Linked DNA regions of Homo sapiens: region 2 is linked to region 1. Evidence: fine-mapped expression QTL. A gene starts in region 1. The other region holds a variant in brackets. All regions are shown on one strand. Distances are from middle to middle.

The links. PIP is the estimated chance that this variant, and not a neighbour inherited with it, causes the effect.
Region 2: its variant is the best candidate, but not a certain one, in a credible set for the expression of UGDH in whole blood (TOPMed, PIP 0.63).

What each region holds. Positions count from the first base shown.
Region 1 is chr4:39,525,765-39,530,095 of GRCh38, forward strand. It overlaps UGDH (UDP-glucose 6-dehydrogenase), which reads right to left and starts at 1,675. Exons shown (of 12, transcript NM_003359.4): 1 at 1,519-1,675. It overlaps UGDH-AS1 (UGDH antisense RNA 1), which reads left to right and starts at 2,075. Exons shown (of 5, transcript NR_047679.1): 1 at 2,075-2,574. RefSeq lists silencers at 1,390-1,569, 1,820-2,119 and an enhancer at 2,500-2,559.
Region 2 is chr4:39,603,203-39,607,594 of GRCh38, forward strand. SMIM14 (small integral membrane protein 14) reads right to left here. Exons shown (of 5, transcript NM_174921.3): 2 at 1,869-1,978. The coding sequence starts at 1,943. Among named protein-coding and RNA genes, the nearest start is that of SMIM14, 33 kb to the right of the region's middle. The variant G/C (reference allele first, on the strand shown) is at 2,470.

The DNA of each region.
Region 1 (4,331 bases):
TCCCAAAGTGCTGGGATTACAGGCGTGAGCCACCACGCCCGGCCCCCATTTTCTATTTCTACTTTTATGTACCCTCTGGCCCTCTATTCTGCTGTCAGAGACATAGGAGTGTTTCCTTATTAAATGGGTTATTTTGAAATGAGTTTTTACCTCTGTATTTTGGGAGAGTCACAACAAACCAAACCGTTCCAAAACTACTCTTCATGTAAAATTTCATAAATTCAAATAAACATTCCAACCCAGAAGGGGTCACTAACAAATAACAAATGCCCTACTACAATCTAAACGGAATATAATCCTTCTAGCCCCAGCTCTCTACAGCATATTTTGCATAGGTACCCAGGAGCTAACGATGGGCATTATAGTTGGATACATCAGCTTCACACATTTTAATCATTTCCAGAAATTAAACAGTAAAAGATGCCTGACCAGAGAAAAATATTTAATCAGTAAGAAAGCCGGTATTAATTTTATGTCTAAGGGTTATCATGTAAAGCTGTGGAAGTAAACAAGAAGGAAGATGGATTATGCTTATCCAGTTATAGATTTTGTTAGAAAAAGGAGTACAGCAACGGGAGAAGAAATGAGATCTTTTCAATCAGGGTTGTCTACCCCTTACCTTAAACTGGATCCTGGCCACTAATAAGCACATCTCAGAGCAGACAGTCAGCTCTTTCATTTCCAGAACCCCCCTGAAGAAAGACTACTGTTCTCCATTTCTTAAGGGATTTGAAGAAACTCAAAGGCTCACTGTGTCTTTGAGGTCTGTCGATAGACAGCTACTGCTCTGTATGCCCATGAATAGATCCCTACCAGCGAACCCCTCTTTTCTCTATACTAGAATTCCTAACCCTACTAAGTTATCTTCCTATATATTTATAGGACGTATAATTTTTCAAGATCTCACACAAACATGGTCTCCCGAGGCACCCAGGAAAGGCCTTCCCCGACATCAAACAGAGCAATTCTGTGGTGTAGGGGGCCAACAATGGATTCCAGGACATCCCGGACAGATATCACGGCAGTCTTAGTATTTTGCTCTCAAGAGGGCTTTCTGGCTTCGTTTCTCTTTGGTTTCTTAAGAGGGGCGGCATGAGAAAAGCAGGAGCCCCTCAGGTGAGCAGACTCTTAAACACAAACAAAAGACTACGACTCTGCGGCCAAAATGAGGTCCCCAACGAGAGAACCGCTTCCTGTGGTGGGCGTTCGGCTTTGGAGGCGGCAGGGAAATCTCATCCAAGTCAGGAAAGTGGGTAAAGGCAGAAAGAGAAGGGGCTGGAAGACTCACGAGTCTTGAATAAGAAGCCCAGACGACCACATCCCCAGGACAGCAGTTCCAAAATGCGGTTCCCGCCCTAAGCCCCAAAGAGACGAAGGTCGTGAGACGGGAAGCCCGGGACCCAGCGCAGCGAGCGACCGGGAGCAGCGCGCACACCCCAGCCCCGCTCCCTCCACATCCCGCCCAGACCTGGGAGCATCCCGCCCGGGCGGCGGGGCCAGCCTGGGAGCGGCGCTTACCCACTTCCCAGCAGCAAGCGCAGGGACCGCTCCTATCCCGATCGTTCGGACAGCACCTTCCTACGGGCCGCGCCGCCGCAGCTTCTCCACCCGCGCCCCGCTCGATCTGAGCTCCCTCTCGGCGCACGCCCCTCCCTCAGGCTGCCACGCGTTACACTCTGAGTCCCGGGCCTGAGCCCGTATTTAAAGGCTTTTGCCTGCGAAGGCGGAGGCTTCATTCCCCCGCAGCCAGGCCCTCCTGGATTCTGCCCTCAGCTGCTTCCTAGCTCCCCCTCCCGCTACACAAGGCCCAGGGCCAGGTCCCTATTTCCTTCACGGCTCAGGGGCGGGGAGACTGGGGCTGGTCCTGGCTGGGAGGGCCTGCCCCGCCCCTGGCCTAGCTGGGCAAATCCGCTTTGGCCAGCTCAGCGGCTCCGCCCCTACCGCGAGCGGCGCTGGGCGGGGCTGCGTGCGTGGCGTGTCCGCTGGACCAGGGGACGGGGGCGCGCCGCAGGTGTAGGAGCTTTGCGCGCCTACCTGGCGGTCGTGGGTCGAGGAGGGGTCAAGAATTGTTGTCTAGCAGCCCTCTCCCCGCTGCCCTGTCCTGGCCGAGGCAAAGGCCGCGTGCGCTCCGCGTCTGCCAGGCTTTAGGGCTGCGCGGACACTGGGTGGGTGGTGGGCCGAGGCGACCGGAAGGTCCTGGCCGCCTTTCCGGTCTCCTCAGCACCCTGGAGCGCCGCCCTCGGGTTTCGGTCTCCTGGATCTGCGGGTCGGTCTCGGCGGGCGGATTACTCCTCGCCCACAACCTCGAGGCCCCGGGGTCAACCGCGCCCTCCGGGCCGGCAACCCAGGGTTTAGTCAGATTCCTCCTGACCCACCGCTTCTGGGAAAGAGGCGCCTCCCGTCAGGAGGATGCTGAGTTCCTCATGACTGGACCAGTGAGTGTCCACTCCCTGGTCCCTGGCGAGAGAGGCGGGACCCCCACGCCCTCCTGGCGCTCTTTGCAGAGATGTTCCTCAGGCCCAATCCGGGATTTGGGATGTCTGTGCGTGCTGTGGAGCAGAGAGTTTGCAACATGTAAGTGCCGTGCGTGAGGAAGAGTAAAATTAACCTATGGAGCCTGCTCATTTTTAATGTGGAGGGCAGTTCCGTTCCTTTCTTTCGCCGCTTCGAGGTCATTTTAACACTCAAATCTAACATATAAGAAAAAAAGCCAGGCATAATCATGGCCTTTTATTTCCCTCATTAAGGATTACATCAGGTGACATAAGCCATTTTAACATACATCATGAAGAAAGTGATTAGTAATTTATAAAGGCACATTAAAATACCATATAAATTACGGTTTTCTTGATAGGATCATGATGGTGACTTTAAGAAAGTGGTTGAATGTGGATGAAACAGTTTGCTGTGGATTGTAGCACGTGTGGCAGGATATGTAGGCTTGTTGGTTGGTTGTTTTGAGACGGAGTCTCCCTCTTGTCGCCGAGGCTGGAGTGCAGTGGTGCGATCTCGGCTCACCTCAACCTCCTCCTTCCAGATTCAAACGATTCTCCTGCCTCAGCCTCCCGAGTAGCTGGGATTACAGGCGCCCACAACCATGCCCGGCTAATTTTTATATTTTTAATAGAGACCGGGTTTTGCTATGTTGACCAGGCTGGTCTCAAACTCCTGACCTCAGGTGATCCGCCCGTCTCGGCCTCCCAAAGTGCTGGGATTACAGGTGTGAGCCACTGTGCCTGGCCAGTATATGTAGGCTTTCTGCATTCTATGCAGTTCAGTTCATTCATCCAACAAATATTTAATGCCTGTTGTGTGTCAGACGTTATCCTAAAGACTGAAGATGCAAAAGGGATTAAGACTCAATTCCTTTGGCCAGGCACGGTGGTTTACGCCTGTAATCCCAGCACTTTGGGAGGCCATAGCGGGCGGATCACCTGAGGTCAGGAGTTCCAGACCAGCCTGGCCAACATGGTGAAACCCCGGCTCCACTAAAAATACAAAAAGTTAGCCGGGTGAGGCGGTGGGCACCTGTAATCCCAGCTGCTCAGGAGGCTCCCTGTTGCAGTGAGCCGAGATCACACCACTGCCCTGCAGCCTGGGGAACAGAACGAGACACTGTCTCAGAAAAATAACCAAACAAAAAAGACTCATTTCCTTCTTGCAAAGCTCACAGGTTGGGTAGAAGAGATATGTAAACAAGTAATTGCACTAGATATGACAAGTACATCTTTTTGAACATACATAGATTTAAGTTATCTAATACAGTTTGCTTTGTAATAAAAACCACTTATCTTAGTCCCTTCATTTTGAATTCAACATTTTTCTATTTAGTATTCACCTCACATTCTTTTTTAGTATTTTGGTAGAATCAGACTCTTCAAAACGGTTAATAGGATTTCAGAAATTAAGTCAATTTTCAGTGCCAGCTAGAATGGACCTTTGGATTTAGGACAGAGGTTCTCCAAATGTGAGCTGGGGACTGTAGACAATCTCCGAGGTTCTTTCTGGGATCCATGAGGTCAAAAAGTTTTCATGTGTTACTTGCTTTTTTCACTCTTGTTCTCTCAGAAGTGTACAATGAAGTTTTGTGGAGACTATAATGTGCTATCAAAGCAAATAGAATTAAGCTGTTTTTTAAGTCAGATATTAGAGATTTACAAAAATGTAAAACAATGCCAATCTTATCTTTTGTTTTTAAAATATAGTAATTTTTCATTAAAATATGATATTTATGTTAACATGTAATGGGCTTATTGTCAATTTTAAGGAATTAATCTTTTATATATAATTTATCAGTTTTCATTTCTAATATGGTAAATACCAATAGTTAC
Region 2 (4,392 bases), 77 kb after region 1:
ATATAAGAATATACTTCACTGTTAATAATGGTCAAATTTTTCCTTTTGCACATAAAAAGTATAAAGTATAATATAGCTGGGCGCGGTGGCTCATGCCTGTAATCCCAGCACTTTGGGAGGCTGAGGCAGGTGGATCACGAGGTCAGGAGATTGAGACCATCCTGGCTAACATGGTGAAACCCCATTTCTACTAAAAAATACAAAAAATTAGCTGGGCATGGGGGCGGGCACCTGTAGTCCCAGCCACTTGGGAGGCTGAGGCAGGAGAATGGCGTGAACCTGGGAGGCGGAGCTTGCAATGAGCCAAGATCGCGCCACTGCACTCCAGCCTGGGTGACAGAGCGAGACTCCATCTCAAAAACAATAAATAAAAAATAATAATAACAATAATAAAGTATAATATAAACAGCCCTGTATTTAAGCTTATAGACTCACTACAATCGACTCAATGAGACTATTCAAATCTTGTTGTTCAGAAATCTACCTCTGTCAAATAATTGATTTGTTTTCAGAAATGCTTTACATAGGCCAGGCGCAGTGGTTCACGCCTGTAATCCCAGCACTTTCGGGGACCGAGGTTGGCAGATCACCTGAGGTCAGGAGTTTGAGACCAGCCTGACCAACAAGGTGAAACCCCGTCTCTACTAAAAATACAAAAATTAGCTGGGCATGGTGGTGCGCACCTGCAATCCCAGCTACTTGCAAAGTTGAGGCAGGAGAATCACTTGAACCCAGGAGGTGGAGGTTGCAGTGAGCCGAGATCGCACCACCGCATTCCAGCCTGGGTGGCAGAGTGAGACACTGTCTCAAAAAAAAAAAAAAAAGAAATGCTTTACATAGAGATTCGTATTGTCATGCCATATGTTGGTGTAGGATATGAACTATATCATAACAGGAACTGTCAATAGCAGCTTAGCAGGCAAACAAGCTCCACACAGCTAAAAACAATTTTATTTGTATTGATATAAAGTAGAAAAGGCAATATACATATGTGTTATCTACCCATGATGGCAAATGTCACCAACATAAATCTACCATAAAGACAGTAGTCTGGGCTGGGGAGGTGGATCACACCTGCATTCCCAGCACTTTGGGGGGCTAAGGTGGGCAGAACACTTGAGGTCAGGAGTTTGAGACCAGCCTGGGCAACATGGTGAAACCCAGTCTCTACTAAAAATGCAAATATTAGCCAGGCGTGGTGGCACACTCCTGTAGTCCCAGTTACTCGGGAGGCTGAGGCAGGAGAATCGCTTGAACTCAGGAGGTGGAGGCTGTAGTGAGCCGAGATAGCACCACTACACTCCAGCCTGTGCAACAGAGCGAGACTCCATCTCAAAATAATAATAATAATAATAATAACAATAATAAAGACGGTAGTCTGTTTTCATCTCTAATGAAATAATTGCTAGCAAACTTTTTTTTTTTTGAGACAGAGTCTTGTTCTGTCGCCCAGGCTAGAGTGCAGTGGCATGATCTCGGCTCACAACAATCTCTGCCTCCTGGGTTCAAGCAATTCTCGTGTCTCAGCCTTCCGAGTAGCTGGGATTAAAAGTGTGTGCCACCACGCCTGGCAAATTTTTATATTTTTAGTAGAGATGGGGTTTTGCTTTGTTGGCCAAACTGGTCTCGAACTCCTGAGTTCAAGTGATCCGCCCACCTTGGCCTCCCAAAGTGCTGGGATTACAGGTGTGAGCCACTGTGCCCGGTCACATTTTAATCATTACAACTTAAACAAATGTGGAATTTCAATTATGAAATACTCTTTAGTGACCATCAGATGAAAACCCTCCAATAACCAGTATTTTCATGAAAAGAGGATACAAGGGATACAGATCAGTTCAGAATAGGATTGTCCTGTTGCATCTCACCAGATTGATCAGTCTTCTCATTGCATGTTCATGAGAGCAAACACATTCACAGGGATCAAATCCACCTTCTGCCATGATTACCCAGCTTGATTTTACTTGACTGTTTAAATCTAGGAGGAAGGAAAAAATACTGTTAAGTCTACAATTCAGAATTACTCTTTCTCTTGAGCTATGAAAAATTCTGATATTGATTACATTCACAATAGTATTAAACTATGTATAGTTTGTATTTATTGACTTGTATCTATTAATTTATTATTAATCTTATATGAATTATGAATCTATACAGGTGATTGGCTACCCCTTCTGCCATCAGCCCATAAATACAAATGTCTTCAATGCTCTAAACTGGCCCCACCTGTGATGCTGAAGATGCTAGAACCTACTCTGCTTAATTACTCAATTATTTGACTTTATTAGCTCCAGTATGCAAATAATTTAAACCAGCCTTTACCCTCACCAAGAAAGACATCTGAAAAGGTATCTAAAATGATACCAAGGTTTATGGGGGGAAATTAATGACATAGCTAAAAAATAGCTAGGTAGATTTCAAAAAATAAAGAGAAACAAATGAGAGGTCAAGATGGAGTATTGGCAACCA[G/C]ATTTACTGTTCTGCCTAAAACAATTTTTTAAAAATTAGACAAAATACATGAAACAATTGTTTTTTGCTGTTGTTTTGTTTTGTTTTTAGACAGAGTCTCGCTCTGTCGCCCAGGCTGGAGTGCAGTGATACGATCTCAGCTCACTGCAACCTCCGCCTCCTGGGTTCAAGAGATTCTCCTGCCTCAGCTTCCGGAGTAGCTGGGATTACAGGCATGCACCACGCCCGGCTACTTTTCATATTTTTAGTAGAGATGGGGTTTTGCCATGTTGGCCAGGCTGGTCTTGAACTCCTGACCTCAGGTGATCTGCCCACCTCGGCCTCCCAAAGTGCTAGGATTACAAGTGTGAGCCACCGTGCCCGGCCAGAAACAATTGTTTTTAAGATATTAAGGCCAGGCGCACTGGCTTACTCCTGTAATCCCAGCACTTTGGGAGGCTGAGGCGGGAGGATCACTTGAGCCCAGGAGTTTGAGACCAGCCTGGGCAACCTAGTGAGACCTCACCTCTACAAATAATTTAAAAATTAGCTGGGCATGGTGGCACAAACCTGTGGTCCCAGCTACTCAGAAGGCTGAGGTGGGAGGATTGCTTGAGCCCTGGCAGTCAAGGCTGCAATAAGCCATGATCACGCCACTGCATTCCAGCCTGGGCAACACAGTGAGTTCATGTTTAAAAAAAAAAAAAAAGGGCTGAGTGTGGTGGCTCACACCTGTAATCCCAGCACTTTGGGAGGCCGAGGTGGGTGGATCACAAGGTCAGGAGATAGAGGCCATCCTGGCCAACATGGTGAAACCCCGTCTCTACTAAAAATACAAAAATTAGCCAAGCGTGGTGGCGTGTGCTTGTAGTCCCAGCTACTCAGGAGGCTGAGACAGGAGAATCGCTTGAATCCGGGAGGCAGATGTTGCAGTGAGCCAAGATCGCGCCACTGCACTCCAGCCTGGCGACAGAGCAAGACTCCGTCTCAAAAAAAAAAAAAAAAAAAGACATTGAACATGAGGCTACAAAGAATAGTGACACCTGAGAGACGGAAAAACAAATGAGATGAGCCCTATCACTGGCCCAGTTTACTGCCTCGAGGAGACTCTAGTTCCAAGTATGTGGTGGGAAAACCCAGACCAGAGCCCAGTGGTATCCCTAAGTTGGGGAGAAGAAACTAGAAGAATGACTATATTAAGGAGAGACATTAAAGATAGTAAAATCATCCAACTGGACTGGTAGAGATAAAAACAATAGTGTCCGAAATGAAAAATACACCAGATGGGTTTAACAGCATAGGAGACATTACAGAAGAAAAGATTACTGAACTTGAAGACATAATAACAGTAGCTATCAAAAATGAAATAATAGAAAAAGGGGTGGATAAACCAGTAGTCCCAGCCACTTGGGTGGTTGGGGCAGGAGGACCATTTGAGCCCAAGAGTTCAAGGCCAGCCTGAGCAACACAGTGAGAACCCATCTCTGAAAAAAATAAACAAAAACATACATAGGCCATTAGTGAGCTGTGGGACAACTTCAAATGGTCTAATATATGTGAATTGTGGACACATCCATCAAAACTTATCAAATTGTATATTTAAATGTGCATAGTTTATTGTTTATCAATTATATCTCAATAACGAGTAAAATTATGCTTATATACAGCATTAGCCATGGAAAACCATTCTGGTTAAAAGGTGGAATAGGCAGATCAATAAAACAATTCATAAATTAACTTAAAATTAAAAATTGAGTGATTAACATAAATTCACTCAAAAATATTTAGTGCTTATGCTAAGCCTATTAGAAATTTAAAAGTAGGCTGAGCATGGTGGCTCACACCTGTAATCCTAGTAGTTTGGGAGGCTGAGGCAAGAGGATCACTTGAGCTCAGGAGTTCAAGAATAGCCTGAGCAACATAGTGAGACCTCATCTCTGTAAA